Regions from separate parts of the Homo sapiens genome. Here region 2 is linked to region 1. Evidence: fine-mapped expression QTL. Tissue or cell type: whole blood. Region 1 holds a variant in brackets; the other region holds the start of a gene. All regions are shown on one strand. Distances are from middle to middle.

The links. PIP is the estimated chance that this variant, and not a neighbour inherited with it, causes the effect.
Region 2: NLRX1 starts here. The variant in region 1 is fine-mapped to the expression of NLRX1 in whole blood (TOPMed, PIP 0.98).

What each region holds. Positions count from the first base shown.
Region 1 is chr11:119,239,603-119,247,602 of GRCh38, reverse strand. The region is part of intron 2 of CBL (Cbl proto-oncogene); the gene reads right to left. Among named protein-coding and RNA genes, the nearest start is that of CBL, 37 kb to the right of the region's middle. The variant T/C (reference allele first, on the strand shown) is at 3,719.
Region 2 is chr11:119,164,568-119,172,683 of GRCh38, reverse strand. It overlaps NLRX1 (NLR family member X1), which reads right to left and starts at 3,959. Exons shown (of 10, transcript NM_001282144.2): 1 at 3,382-3,959; 2 at 1,211-1,328; 3 at 259-328. The coding sequence starts at 1,280. RefSeq lists enhancers at 2,459-3,163, 3,164-3,869 and a silencer at 3,441-4,050.

The sequences.
Region 1 (8,000 bases):
TTGACCTCAAGCAATCCGTCTGCCTCGGCCTCCCATAGTGCTGGGATCACAGGCGTGAGCCACCACACCCGGCAAATGATTTCTGTATATTGATCTTGTGTCCTGCAACTTTGCAGAACTCATTTATTGGCTTTAGTGTTTTCTTAATGGATTCTTTAGAATTTTCTACATACAGAATTATGTCACATGCAAATGGAAATGGCTCTTTTTCCTATCTTTTCTTAGAAGTTGCAGCAGAGCAATTAGGCTTCTTTTCTTTTCCTTGCCTAATTGCTCTGGCTGGAACGTCTAGTACCACGTTGATGAGATGTGGCAAAAGTAGGCTATCTTGTCTGCTTCATGATCTTAAAGGGAAGGCTTTCAGTCTTTCACCATCAAGTTATTAACTGTGTTTTCATGTACGGTATGGAACATCATTTTTACTTGAAAGAATGATGAATAGACTAACTATGGCTATTCAGACTTGCATAACTGGCAGAGTGTTTCTCCAAAATGAAGTGCCCTGTCACCTGATGATAAACTGGCAGTTTTCATTGTCAATAATGAAACTCAAGCTTTTAAGCAAAATTTCATTTTTCAAACTTCTATCCACAACCATCAGCAACAGCTTCCCAATACCAAACTTTTCTAATGAGATTTAATTAATGAATTTAATGTTTTGATATATATCAATATATGGAAAAATCTCTATAACCTAGTCAATCAATATTTTCCAAGTGACCAATGTGTGTTACGAAATCATGCACAAGTAAAACAATCATTCCAATTACAAGATAGCATGAATCTTAAAGTACAAAATGTTAATTGAAGCAGTTGCACACTGCAACTAACCTTTTAAGAAACTAATACTCGCCTGGGCGCACTGGCTCACACCTGTAATCCCAACACTTTGGGAGGCCGAAGTGGGTGGATCACTTGAGGTCAGGAGTTCAAGACCAGCCTGGCCAACATGGTGAAACCTCATCTCTACTAAAAATACAAAAATTAGCCAGGTGTGGTGGCACACGTCTGTAGTCCCAGCTACTCGGGAGGCTGAGGCAGGAGAATTGCTTGAACCCAGGAGGCGGAGGTTGCGGTGAGCTGAGATTGTGCCATTGCACTCCAGCCTGGGCAACAGAGCAAGACTCCCATCTCAAAAGAAAAAAGAAACTAACACTCGTTCAGTTTTGGTAAAGTATGAATACCCCTCCCCCTTTCCAACTACATATTTGTGGGTAGCTGAATTTTCTCCATAAACTTCAACCAAAATATCACACTGTAACACACTGAATGCAGCAGATATGAAACTCCAGCTGTATTCTCTTAAACTATGTATTAAAAAGATTTGTAAGGCCGGGCGCGGTGGTTCGCACCTGTAATCCCAGCACTTTGGGAGGCCGAGGCAGGCGGATCACGAGGTCAAGAGATCAAGACTATCCTGGCCAACATAGTGAAACCCTGTCTCTACTACAAGTACAAAAATTAGCTGGGCATGGTGGCGCGCGCCTGTAGTCCCAGCTACTTGGGAGACTGAGGCAGAAGAATTCCTTGAACCCAGGAGGCAGAGGCTGCAGTGAGCTGAGATCGCGCCGCTGCACTCCAGCCTGGTGACAAAGAGAGATTCCATCTCCTCAAAAAAAAAAAAAAAAAAAAAAAAAAAAAAAAAAGATTTGCAAAGAATGCGTCTGTCTTAGTTTGCTTGGGCTGCTATTAACAAAATACCAAAGACTAGTTAATTTATAACAACAGAAATTCCAGCCCGGGCAACATAGTGAGATCCCATCTCCACAAAAAAATTTAAAAATTAGCCAGGCATGGTGACACAGACCTATAGTCCCAGTTATGAAGAAGGTTGAGCAAAACCTTGTCTCTATTTCTTTTTTGTTTGTTTTTTGAGACGGAGTTTTGCTCTTGGCACCCAGGCTGGAGCGCAATGGCACAATCTCAGCTCACTGCAACCTCCACCTCCCAGGTTCAAGTGATTCTCCTGCCTCAGCCTCCCGAGTAGCTGGGATTACAGGTACCCACCACCATGCCCGGGTAATTTTTGTATTTTTAGTAGAGATGGGGTTTCACCATGTTGGCCAGGCTGGTCTCGAACTCCTGACCTCAAGTGATCCACCTGCCTCGGTCTCCCAAAGTGCTGGGATTACAGGCATGAGCCACTGCACCTGGTCCATTAAAACTTTTTATGTTAACATGTAATAGGCTTATTATTGTTAAGTGTTTAAAGGTTAAAAACCTAAATATTTTTAAATCTCTCGGTTTTAATATCAAATATGGTAAATGTTGATCGATATGACCCATATATACAAAAGCTCTTTGAGGTCCTCAAAAAATTTTTAGAATGTAAAGGGGTCCTCAAACCAAAAGGCTGAGAGAAAAACTGCATTAATAAAAAAAAGCTCTAGACAAGCAGGTAGATATCTGGTTTAAAAAAAAAAAAAAAACTGGTCGGGCAAGGTGGCTCACACCTGTAATCCCAGCACTTTCGGAGTCCAAGGTGGGAGAATCACTTGAGGCCAGGCATTCAAGACCAGCCTGGGCAACAAAGTGGGACCCCATCTCTACAAAAGATTAAAAAACTGCCCAGGCATGGTGGTGTGTGCCTGTAGTCCCAGCTACTTGGGGTGTGTGCCTGTAGTCCCAGCTACTTGGGAGGCTGAAGCAGGTAAATTGATGATCCTGGAAGAGGCAGCAGTAAGCTATGATTGTGTCACTGGACTCCAGTCTTGTGTGACAAAGCAAGACCCTGTCTCACAAAAATAAACAGGCCAACCATGCTGGCTCACACCTATAATCCCAGCACTATGGTAAGGTAAGGTGGGGCGGATTGCTTGAACTCAGGAGTTCAAGACCAGCCTAGGCAATATGGCAAAATCCCGTCTCTACAAAAAATACAAAAATTCAGCTACTCGGGAGGTTGAGACAGGAGAATGGCATGAACCCGGGAGGCGGAGCTTGCAGTGAGCCGAGATCACGCCACTGCACTCCAGGCTGGGCGACAGAGCGAGACTCCGTCTCAAAAAAAAAAAAAAAAAATTAGCCGGGCATGGTAGCATGCACCTGTTCCAGCTACTCAGGAGGCTGAGGTGGGAGAATCACATGAGCCCTGGAGGTTGAGGCTGCGGTGAGCCAAGATTGTGCCACTGCACTCCAGCCTGCACGGCAGAGTGAGACCTTATCTCAAAAAAAAAAAAAATTAATTAAAAATAAAAAGCAAACCATGTTTGAAGCACTAATATAACCTACCATTACATTAGAATTTCTAAGAAAACAGATGATCTGATTATCAGGTTTTCATAATTAAACAAACCATAGTAATTTATGATCTACTGCTCTACAAGCACTATTACCTTGTACAGGATGATGCTGAGAACTAACTGTGACTTTTCACCTTCATAAACTAACCCAGTTTTCCAGTCTTTCTAGCTAGCAACTTTGCACTCTCTCTAGCTAGGTTCACTGAACTTCACCATAATCTAGCGATCATATTACTACAACAAAAGGGAAAATTTTCAGAACTGTTCTTGTGAATTCGTGCTGTTACCTAAGAAGTTACCACATTTTTTTTCTTCTTTTAAAAAGAATCTGAGGTCAGGAGTAGTGGCTCATACCTGTAATCCCAACACTTTGGGAGGCCAAGGCAAAAGGATCACTTAAGCACAGGAGTTTGAGACCAGCCTGGGAAACACAGTGAGACCCGATGTCCACAAAAAATTTAAAAACGAGCCAGGCA[T/C]GGTGGTACACACCTGTAGTCACAGCTACTCAGGAGGCTAAGGCAAGAGAATTGCTCGAACCTGGGAGGCTGAGGCTGCAATGAGCTGTGATCACACCTCTGCATTCCTGCCTGGGTGACAAGAGACCCTGCCTCCCAAAAGAAAAAAAAAAAGTTTTTTGATCAATTGCATATTCATTGTAGAAAATTTAAACCACCTGTAATTCTAATACTTACCGTTGTTATTTTGGTATCATTCTTTCTAGGTGTTGTTTTTGTATTTTAAAATACTTTCTACAAAAATGGAATATTATTAAACATACAATTCTATAGCCTATTTAACATATTGTCATATCGTTACTCTTCATCAGCAAAAAAAAAAAAAAAAAATTTTTTTTTTTGAGACGGGGTCTCATATCCTTGATCAATTCTCTTTGATAAATTCCTAACAGTAGGCTGGGCGCAGTGGTTCATGCCTATAATCCCAGCACTTTGGGAGGGTGAAGCGGGCATATCACTTGAGACCAGCCTGGAAAACACAGACCAATCTCTCTTTAAAAATAAATAAATAAATAAATATCCTACCAGTGAACTTATTAAGCAAAATTCTAAGTCTTATCTTCTTTTTGAGATTGAGTCTTGCTCTGTCGTCCAGGCTGGAGTGCACTGGCATGATCTCGGCTCACTGCAACTTCCACCTCCTGGATTCTAGCGATTCTGCTGCCTCAGCTTGCCAAGTAGCTGGGATTACAGGCGTGCACTGCCACACACAGCTAATTTTTGTATTTTTAGTAGAGACGAGGTTTCACTACATTGGCCAGACTGTTCTCAAACTCCTGACCTCAGGTAATCTGCCTGCCTCAGCCTCCCAAAGTGCTGGGATTACAGTAATGAGCCACCACCCCTGGCTGAAAATTCTAAATCTTTTGATATAACCACCACCCCAGAAAGGTTAAACTAATTTCACCCCTAATGCAACCTGGTATGGCAATACCCATGTCCCTGCACCCTCTTTTGGAATACTCATCATAAATAGATTTGAGAGAAAAATTTTTTTAAAAAAGTAAAAAAAAGTAGATTTGCCATTTTTGCCACTTTTGCAAGCCAAAAGAAACAATTATTTTAGGCCTAGCAAACTGGTTTCTTTTTTTTTTTTTTTTTTTTAAAGAGTCAGGGCCTTATTCAGTCACCAAGGCTATAGTGCAGCGGCTCAAGTGATCCTCCCCACCTCAACTGCCTCCTGAGTAGCTGGGACTTCAGGTATGCATGCCACCACACCCAGCCAATTTTTCTTTTTTAAATTTTTTGTAGAGACAGGGTCAGGGTCTCTCTATGGTGCCGTGCTGGTCTTTTTTTTTTTTTTTTTTTGAGATGGAGTCTCACTCTGTCACTCAGGCTAGAGTGCAGTGGTGCAATCTTGGCTCACTGCAACCTCCGCCTCCTGGGTTCAAGTAATTCTCCTGCCTCAGCCTCCTGAGTAGCTTGGATTACAGGTACCCGCCACCATGCCCAGCTGATTTTGTATTTTTAGAAGGGAGGGGGTTTCACCATGTTCACGCTGGTCTCGAACTCCTGACCTCAGGTGATCCAACGCCTTGGCCTCCCAAAGTGCTGGGATTACAATCGTGAGCCACTGTGCCCAGTTTCAGGCTGGTCTTAAACTCTTGGCCTCCACTGATCCTCCTTAGTCTCCCAAATCACTGGGATTACAGGAATTACACCATACCTATCCCCAATCTATTTCTTATTTGCCCACCTCTCTTCATTTTAAATTCCTCCTCCCTAGTCTCATCAATCTAACATGGCCTAGAATACTAATTTAGTAACCTATCCATCTATTTCCATCATTGCCACAAGACCTTACCTATTTTCCAGACAGCAGCCAATACTGTCACTGTAAAATACAAGTGGATCACATCCTTCACCTGTTCAAAAGTTCAGTGGCTTCCCATTGCACTATCTATCCAGTTGCTCAAACTAGAAATCTATCCAATTCATTAGCAAGTCCTGGTATGTTAGCTTTAAAATACATCAAATTCTGCCCACTTCTTTCCATCTCTACACCCATCACTTTGGTCCAAGCCATCATTGTCTCTCTCATGGACTGAAAATCTTTTTCAGGACCCATGTTGCTGTCCCTTTCCTAAATGCAAGGACATTTTTAACCTAAGTGAAAATCTCTTCCCACCAAGCCCAAATTCCTGAACACAAAGATCTAAACTGCCATTACCTACCAGAAGAATTTTGCACACTTATTGAAAACCTATTTTCATGGTGCTAGGAAAAGATTATAGCTGCACAAACACTTTTGTCTCGCTTGTTAAATACTGTTCCACCGGATGATAATATGGAGGTTATGCTTTGGAAACTAATGGAAAAAGACATAATATAAGCTTATAAGCTTCATGAAAAGAAGGGACTATGTACTATTCAGGAGCAGTGCCTACCATAGACAAAATACTCAATACTAATTTTTTTTCCTTTTCCTACCTCTAAGAAGGCAGAATTACATTAGAAAAGCTTAATCCTACTTGCACAATGAATACAATCAAGTTTTTAAAATTAACTGCACTGTATAATCCCATTCGGCTTCTACTGTAACTTCCTGTACACAAATGAAAACAGGTGCAAAACCCAGAAAGATCAAAGGCAAAACAGAGGCTTATGGTTTTACTTAATTCATTTTTTATAAAGTCTAAGAAAAATGAGGGCAAATTTATCTTTGGAGAACTTAAACCAGCTAATAATAACTAAAATAAAATCATGAAGCAACAATACTATACAATAATAGATAGAATTATGTACATTCTTTTTTATTTTTTATTTTTTATTTTTGAGATGGAATCTAACTCTGTCGCCCAGGCTAGAGTGCAGTGGCACAATCTCGGCTCTGCAACCTCCACCTCCCAGGTTCAAGTGATTCTCCTGCCTCAGCCTCCCGAGTAGCTGGGATTACAGGTGCCCGCTACCACACCTGGCTAATTTTTGTATTTTTAGTAGAGACGGGGTTTCACGATGTTAGCCAGGCTGGTCTTGAACTCCTGACCTCAGGTGATCCACCCACCTCAGCCTCCCCAAGTGCTGGCATTACAGGCATGAGCCACTGCACCCAGCCAATTATGTACACTCTTATAGAGAAGATTTAAGAGACTGGCTCCTCAACACCCAAAAAACTAGGAACAAACTCCCCCATGCACATGGCTATGAAGGAACACATATGTCTCCCAAGCCACAGTCGATTAGTCTAGAGGTCTGCAACTGGCCTCTGCTGTACTAATCCCAGTACTTAACCTCTCCTTCCAGAGGTTGGTCCAGGGACAATCAAATGCTCTATACCAAGCCAAAGTGAAAACTGGAACTAAGAGTCATATCTTCTGCTACAGCAGAAACTCTTAAGATATAAAACTTGGGTGTAATAGAGACCAAACTTTTCTGCAATTTACGCATTAATCTGCACTGAGTATGGAAGTAATACCAGAAGAATCAAAGAGAACAGACAGAGTCCTGGCAACATTTCAATCCTGGTTTCAGTTGTTCCTGAGGCTTACCTGCATTCTTGCCTTTAGTGCAATTTTTCTTTTTCTTTCTTTTTTTTCTTTTTTTTTTTAATTGGTAACAGTCTCACCCTGTCACCCAGGCTGGAGTGCAGGGGCATGATCTCAGCTCACCGCAAACCTCCACCAACCGAGTTCAAGCAATTCTCGTGCCTTAGCCTCCCAAGCAGCTGGGATTACAGGTATATGCCACCATGTCCAGCTAATTGTTTTGAATTTTTTAGTAGATATGGGGTTTCACTATGTTGGCCAGGCTGGTCTCCAACTCCTGACCTCAAGTGATCTGCCCACCTCAGCCTCCCAAAGTGCTGGCATTACAGGCGTGAGCCACCATGCCCAGCCTCTTTAGTGCAATTTAAGATACTCATTTTTTCTAGAATTTTATGAGTCAACAAGTTTCTACTTTGGCTTATTCAAACTAGTTTTCTTTTCAAGATTCTTTCTATGTACTATATTTAACTAGCACTCAGCTGTCCACAACTCACCTATCAAAAAAAGAAAAACCACGAATGAAACATAAAAGGTCTCTAACAACTGTTTATGATAAAACAAAAAAGCAAAAAAAAAACAACAACCAAAAACTGAAAAACAAGACATGTAAGGAAACTTCTTTAACCTGATGAAAAGCCTTTACAAAAATCTCACAGCTAATATACTCAATGGTGAAAGGCTGAACATTTTCCTCCTCAATACCAAAAAGACAAAGATGGCCACTCCTGATATTCCTATTCAACATAGCCAAGAATAAT
Region 2 (8,116 bases), 75 kb after region 1:
CCTGGAACTCAGGCTGGCCATGTGAGGCTCCACCCACTTCCCACAGGGTCCTCCCTCCACTGACTACTATGCCTTCTACCACAGATGATCTAAGCCAACTTCCTCTCAGGCCTTGGAGCTGCCACTGTCCTCCCACCCCCAAAGGACCAAGCCCCTCCCCAAGGTCCCCAAGAGATCAAGCTAGCCCCAAGTCCTGACCCTTCCCAGTCTGCTCTGTTGTGCCCAGACTAGTCCTAAGGTATGACACCCAGGCCTCACCTAGGGGGCCCAAAGGGACGCTCCCCTTGAAGGGGCCAACTCCAGTGGATCAGGAAGGGGATACGATCATCTACAGAGAGAAGGAAGAAATAGCATCTGCAGATCCCATGCAATACACAGAACCCATGTCTACATCAAACCCCCCAGTATTTGCTCTCATAGCAGCATGTACTGCCCCTTTGCAGCAGTTATTTTGCAATTTTATATTTCATTGTGTGATTATTCGATTAACATTCATTCCTCTCTCCTCCATGAGAGGGATCACATTTGGGTGTTTTAAAATTTTTTTGTCCCCTTTACGTCTGTTTTTGTTCACAATTATTTACTTAGAACTTAACACCAGGTCTGCGGTACGGCAGGCACTCAGTAAATCTCTGTTGTATGTAAAGTAAAATCAGACAAGTTCCTAGACTTATGTAGCTACAAGAGACTCTCGAAGATGATCTAGTCCAACTCTCTTTTTTTTTTTTTGAGACAGAGTCTTACTCTATTGTCCAGGCTGGAGTGCAATGGTGCGATCTCAGCTCACTGCAACTTCTGCCTCCCGGTTCAAATGATTCTCCTGCCTCAGCCTCCCAACTAGCTGGGATTACAGGTGTGCACCACTACACCTGGTTAATTTTTTTTTTTGTAGTTTTAATAGAGACAGGGTTTCACCATGTTGCCAGGCTGGTCTCAAACTCCTGATCTTGTGATCCGCCTGCCTCGGCCTTCCAAAGTGCTAGGATTACAGGCATGAGCCACCGCACCTGGCCAAGTCCAACTCCCTTATTTTAGGTTGGGAAAAAGGCAGCTGAGGAAGGTGAAGCGACATGCTCAAGGTCAACAGCTAGAGAACCACGGAGCTGAGACTAGTGCACCTGGTGTCTGGATCCCTGCTGTCTTGGAGGCATCATGTGGACCCTGGAAAGCAAGAAAGAGGTAAAAACAGAAACCCCTGCTTCCTGCTCACCTGGTCGCTGGAGTGCTCTTCTAAAACCAGAGCCCCAAGAGGCCCTGGGCAAATGGTGGCCCCACCTCATCCTGGGAAAGAAGGTCAGAGCCTGGGGGGCCTAGGACCGACTTCTGTCCTGCAAGAAGAATAGTACGAATGGATCACTGCCACCACTCCTCCCCTGCACCCCTAACCCCATTCCAGCCAAGGAGGGACCTTCCTCCCAGGAGAGGATCAGCCCTTCCTCAAATGTTGGCCCTGCTGAAGCCCTGGCCTGGTTTTCAGCTCTCGTCCCTCTCCCAAACTCCAGCTTGAGGAATCCCATTTTATCTCCTACCACCTTTTTTTTCTTTTTTCTTTTTTGAGATGGAGTGCCCCTCTGTTGCCCAGGCATGATTGTGGCTCATTGAAGCCTATGCCTCCCGGGCCCAAGCGATTCTCCTGCCTCAGCCTCCCAAGTAGCTGGGATTACAGGCGCCCACCACCACACTGGGCTAATTTTTGTATTTTTAGTAGAGACGGGGTTTACCATGTTGGTTAAGCTGGTCTTGAACTTCTGACCTCAGGTAATCTGCCTGCCTTGGCCTTGCAAAGTGCTGGGATTACAAGTGTGAGCCATCACACCTGGCCTTCCTGCCACGTCTTGCCTCTCCCCTGAAGCTTCACGAACACCTTTCCCTGAGTTCCACCCTGGTAAACTGCTTTATTTAGGTGTCCTTTTTCCTTCTTGGCCACCAGCAAGCTCAGATAGGAGTCCTGTGTTCATTTTCAGTGGCTTTTCTGTGCCTAGATTTTCCAGTAATAATTATCCACCCCACTCTGCCTTTCTTCCGCAGATATCAGATCCTTTTAGCTGAGTTTTAATGGCTTCATCATTTTATGTTCTCTGTGACTTTTATGTAAGCAGCCTTTGAGGCTGACATAAATAATAAATAAATGAATGAACTTCTCACTTGACATCTCCAGATGGACAACCTGCCACTGCTTCAAACTTCTCCCATGTAAAACTGAACTCATCATTCCCCTCCTCTTGTCATTTACCTTGCTGCAAATCTTCCCACCCACGCCTTACATTAGAAACCTGACCTCTCTCTTCAAATCTTTCTTCCCTTGCTCCTTTAGGCAGTGTGAAGAGTCCTAGCAATTCCTCCCCACTGCTTTGCCAGCCAGTTGCTGCCCCGACCAGCATTTATTGGACCCGATCTCCTCACCAGCCTTTCTGCCTTCAGTCTCATCCCATTCTAATCCCTCACCCCAAGCACCAAGCACCTCCCGAAAAGTCCAAGGTTACTTATAGAGTCCAAACACTGGGCTCCCACAAGCTATTTTTCTGAGTTTGTCCCAGCCTGTGCCTTATACCCCAGGCTCACCGGATTCTTGCTCTTGCTGTCCTAAATTTGTTCATACACTCTTCCCAGTTTGGAATGACCTTTTTCCTCTGTTAGAGTCCCAACCAATTTTTTTTTTTTTTTTTTTTTTTTTTTTTTTTTTCCTGAGACAGGGTCTCTCGCTCTGTTGCCCAGGCTGGAGTGCAGTAGTACGATCTCAGCTCACAGCAACCTCTACCTCCTGGGCTCAAGCCATCCTCCTGCTTCAGCCTCCTGAGTAGCTAGGACTAAAGTGGTGTGCCACCACACCTGGCTAATTTTTGGCTTTGGTTTTTGTAGAGACGGGGTTTTCACCATTGTTGCCCAGGGTGGTCTCGAACTCCTGGGCTCAAGTGATCCGCCCGCCTTGCCCTCCCAAAGTGCGGGGACTGCAGGCGCGAGCCACCACTCGGGCCCCAACCAATCTTTTAAGATCCTGCTCAAAAGTCTCCGTCCCTGGGAAGTCTTTTCTGAGGCCTCTGAACTCACTTAAATGGAATGTGCCCCTATTTGGCACCTGGTCTCCTCCACTGAGATCGGGGCTTCTTGGGCAGGGTACGCTTAAGGAGAACTGGCTGCATTGGGCCACCTGCCTTAGCAGGGCCAACCAGCGGAGGAGCTGGCTGGGTGCTGGCCCGTCCCAGGGGCTGCGGAAGGGTTAAGAGAGGGCTCCAGAAGCCTGAGAAAGCCTAGGTTCCGGTTTAACCTCGGATCTAGGGCCACTGAGTCAAGACGGGACTTGCGGGGCCGAGGGCAGTTCTCCGGTGATCACCCAGGTCTCCAGGGCAATGAGAAAAGGAGGGGGCACTGCAGGAAACGTACAGGGGCGGTGTTCCTACAGGTCCAGAGCTCCTCCACCAAACTGGGTCCCAAACAGCTCTCCTACTTTCGGGTGGCCTCGGGAACGCAGGGGGAGACTTGCCAGAACGCCCGCCATTCAGCGCCCAGCTCCGTCCCTCTCGTTCTCGGCCGGGATCTCCCCGCGGCCCTTGCACAGCCTCCTCCCCCGGCCCGCCCTGCCCCCCGCTCAGCGCGGCCTCCCAGCCAGGGCGCAGGGGTTATCAAGCCCGCTAGGCCTTTACCCGCGGCTGCCCAGTTCCGGGAGCCGTCGGCCGCGGCCCAGAGGGGTCGGCTGGGCGGACGCCGGCGTCTCCCGCTAGCTCCCAGAGTCCCCGGCTCCTCGGCGTGGCGCTTCCTGCCCACCTCCGCCCGCCTGCGCGGCCCTGGCACCTGGCAGCGGGCGCGAAAGAGGACGAGCCCAGGCACTCGGGCCTGCGGGGTCCTGGGACGAGGGGGTCAGCGAGAGGGGCCCGGTGCTCCGGAGCAGGCGCAGGGCTGGAACCCCGGCGCCACCCGTCCCGCCATCGTCCCCCCTCCCTGCCTCCATCCCCGCGGGCACTGCCGCTAGTACTGCCCTCTGCAGGTTCCCAAGCGCCAGTGACACCCAGTGACCTCACTAACCACCTCCCAGGCTGGGCTGCTTGTTAGGCCCATTTTACAGATGAAGAAACTGATGCTCAGAAGGGTGAAATGACTTGTGCAGGTTGATTCAGTTAGGAAGTGGATGAGCCAGAACAACATCCCGGGCCTGAGTCTTCCTACCTTACCCCTGGGCCTCCCTGAGGCGCGGTGTCCAGGGGATTCTTCCCTCTGTCCCTCTCCGCCTCCCCAGCCTACCTTCAGGCAGAGACCTGAGCCTAAGGCTTCCTTGGGTTCTGCCTTATGTATCCGGTCCTCTTCAGAGCCCAGACCTATGTGTGTGGCTGCTGGTAACCTTGGTTAAGAAAGAAGGAAGAATGGGGGCTGAAGGACAACTTGCACCCCAACCTGCTCTTCGGGTCTGACACCCATTCATGGCCTAGCCCTGGGGCTTCCCAGTTCCCAAAGCCCCCACCCTTATCCCTACACTTCCACACACTTCCACACCCTGGGCTCACGTAGCCCAGAAGGAGGAGCCACCCACCACCCACAGCCAGGGCACGCCTTCGTATGCAAGCATGAGTGTACGATGTTCACACAACAGAGCTGTGCACTAGGGCACCCACAGAGAGGCTCTCCAGGGCAGGGCTGGGAAGAGGACTTACTGAAAACAATGTGGATGTTTCATTTAGACATTTGTTCATTCGTTGTACTGTGGTATTGGGTAGCACTGAGCACCTCACCCCCACAAGCCAGGTCCAGCACTAGGCCCTGGGCTGCCAACCACAGCAAGGCAGGCACCTCACTTTAATGGAATCAACTACCACATTTACAAATGATGTACTTCAAGGCCGAGGCAGGAGGATCACTTGAGACCAGGAGTTTGAGACCAGCCTGGGTGACATAGTGAGACCCTGTCTCTATTTAAAATGAAAATAGAAAATAAAAATATAAAAAACAGACAAACAAATGATGTACTTCAGTGGCAGAGGCAAGGCATTAGGAGAGTCTGGAAAAGGGAGTGCAGAGGAGGTAACATTTGTACTGGATCTGAAAAAATAAATCAGAGGACCAGCCGCGGTGGCTCACACCTGTAATCTCAGCACTTTGGAAGGCTGGGGGTGAGGGCAGATCTCCTGAGGCCAGGAGTTTGGGACCAGCTCAAACTCGTCACCATGGCCAACATGGTGAAACCCCCGTCTCTACTAAAAATAACAAAAATTGGCCAGGCATGGTGGCTCATGCCTGTAATCCTAGCACTTTGGGAGGCCAAGGCAGGCGGATTGCCTGAGCTCAGAAGTTCACGACCAACCTAGGCAACGTGGTGAAACCTCATCTCTACTAAAAATACAAAAATTAGCCGGGCTGGGTGGTGCATGCCTGCAGTCCCAGCTACACAGGAGGCTTAGGCAGGAGAATCGCTTGAATCCAGGAGGCGGAGGTTGCCGTGAGCCAAGATCACGCCACTGCATTCCAGCCTGGGAGACAGAGCAAGACTCTGTATCAAAAAAAAAAAAAAAATCAACCAGACGTGGTGGCATGGGCCTGTAGTACCAGCTACTCAGAAGGCTGAGGCACAAGAATTGCTTGAACTTGGGAGGTAGAGGTTGCAGTGAGCCGAGATCATGCCACTGCACTCTAGCCTGGGAGATAAAGCAAAACCGTGTCTCAAAAATAAAAACAAAAGCACAAAAAATTAGCTGGGCATGGTGGCACATGCCCATAATCACAGCTACTCAGGAGACTGAAGCAGGAGAATTGCTTGAACCTGGGAGGCGGAGGTTGCAGTGAGCCAAGATTGCACCACTGCACTCCAACCTGGGCAACAGAGAGAGACCCTGTCTCAATAAATAAATAAATCAGAGAAAGGAAAGGCAGGGCATCCCAGCAGCAGGGTGAACAACACATTTGCATTTTAAAAGAGGTTCTTCAAGGGGAGTAGAATAGGATGTGGGAGGGGAAGTATAGGAACCCCATGAATGTAGTCTCATGGGTGACAGTTTGGGCCTGGTAATCTCCTCTAGCTTCATTCCACTTACCTAGCCATGCAAGACAGTCACCTGGCAGCAGTTCCTGGACACAGCTCAGAGCAATCTGTTTTCCTCCCCTGTCACCTTCCCCATGGGTACGACAACCATGTAGGTTTTATTAATAACATATACTTTGACTGGCCTCTTGCAGACAGAAGTACTGTGAGTCATGCCGTGGGCATGTCCTCTGTTGTCTGACCTAGGATGCGGTGCAGTGGCTCACCCTATAATCCCAGCACTTTGGGAGGCCGAGGTGGGTGGATCACCTGAGGTCAGTAGTTCGAGACCAGCCTGACCAACGTGGTGAAACCCCGTCTCTACTAGAAATACAAAAAAATTAGCCAGGCTTGGTGGCAGGCACCTGTAGTCCCAGCTACTCAGGAGGCTGAGGCAGGAGAATCGCTTGAACCCAGGAGGCAGAGGTTGCAGTGAGCCGCGATCATGCCACTACACACTCCAGCCTTGGCTACAGAGTGAGACTCTGTCTAAAAAAAAAAAAAAAAGTTATAGCATGAGGCCGGGGTGTGGTTGCTCACACCTGTAATCCCAGCACTTTGGGAGGCTAAGGCAGAAGGATCACTCGAGCCCAGGAGTTTGAGACCAGCTTGGGCAACATAATAGAACCCTGACTCCACAAAAATAATTTTTAAAAAATTAGCTAGGCATGGTGGCACGCACCTGCGGTCCCAGCTACTCTAGAGTCTGAGATGGGAGGATCGCTTGAGCCCAGGAAGTTGAGGCTGCAGTAAGCCATGGTTGCACCCTGTACTCTAGCATGGGTGACAGAGCGAGACCCTGTCTCAAAAAAAAAGAATTATTGCATGGACAACTGTCTTAGTCAACTCTGGTCTTCAGCACTTTGCATAGGTCTGGACACAGAGAAGGTGACTGTGTTAAAGAAGATGATATCAGATGGGCGTGGTGGCTCACGCCTGTAATCCCAGCACTTTGGGAGGCCAGTGTGGGTGGATTGCCTGAGCTCAGGAGTTCGAGATCATCAGGGCTACATGGTGAAACCCCGCCTCTACTAAAAATACAAAAAAAATTAACCAGGTGTGGTGGCGCACGCCTCTAGTCCCAGCTACTTGGGAGGCTGAGGCAGGAGAATTGCTTGAGCCCCAGAGGCGAAGGTTGCAGTGAGCCGAGATCACGCCACTGCACTCCAGCTTGGGCTACAGAGTGAGACTCCGTCTCAAAAAAGAAAAAAAAAAAGATGATCTGTAAGCCCAGGTACTTAGGTACTTTGGCACTTAGGGAGAGAGGGCCCACTTCAAAACATACTTAGATGGGCAGGGAGCATTTATGCTCCAACTCAGCAGGTTACTGGGACTGGTGGGAGGAACATGGGGTAGGGCACAGTGGCAAGAGTACAGTATCTCGCCGGGAGTGGTGGCTCATGTCTGTAATCCCAGCACTTTGGGAGGCCGAGACGGGTGGATCACGAGGTCCGGAGATTGAGACCATCCTGGCTAACACGGTGAAACCCCGTCTCTACTAAAAATACAAAAAAATTAGCCAGGCGTAGTGGCAGGCACCTCTAGTCCCAGCTACTTGGGAGGCTGAGGCAGGAGAATGTCGTGAACCCAGGAGGCAGAGCTTGCTTGCAGCGAGCCGAGATGGTACCACTGCACTCCAGCCTGGGCGACAGAGAGAGACTCCATCTCAAAAAAAAAAAAAAAGTATTTACTGGATTTTTTTTTTAACAGGGTGTCACTCTATCACCCAGGCTGGGGTGCAGTGGCACAATCATAGCTCACTGTAATCTCAAACTCCTGGGCTCAAGTGATCCTCTCACCTCAGCCTCCCAAGTAACTAGGACTACAAGCATTGCCACCATGCCCAGCTAATTGTTTGTTTGTTTGTTTGTTTGTTTGTTTTTATAGAGAGCTGTAGTGATGGGGCCTCACTGTGTTGCCCAGGCTGGCCTCCCAAAGTCCTGGAATTACAGATGTGAGCTACCATGCCATGCCCTAGTATTTACGTTTTAAAAAGAGAAAGAGGGCCGGGCATGGTGGCTCATGCCTGTAATACTAACACTTTCGGAAGCTGAGCTGAGAGGAACGTTTCAGCCCAGGAGTTGGAGACCAGCCTGGGCAACGTGATGAGAC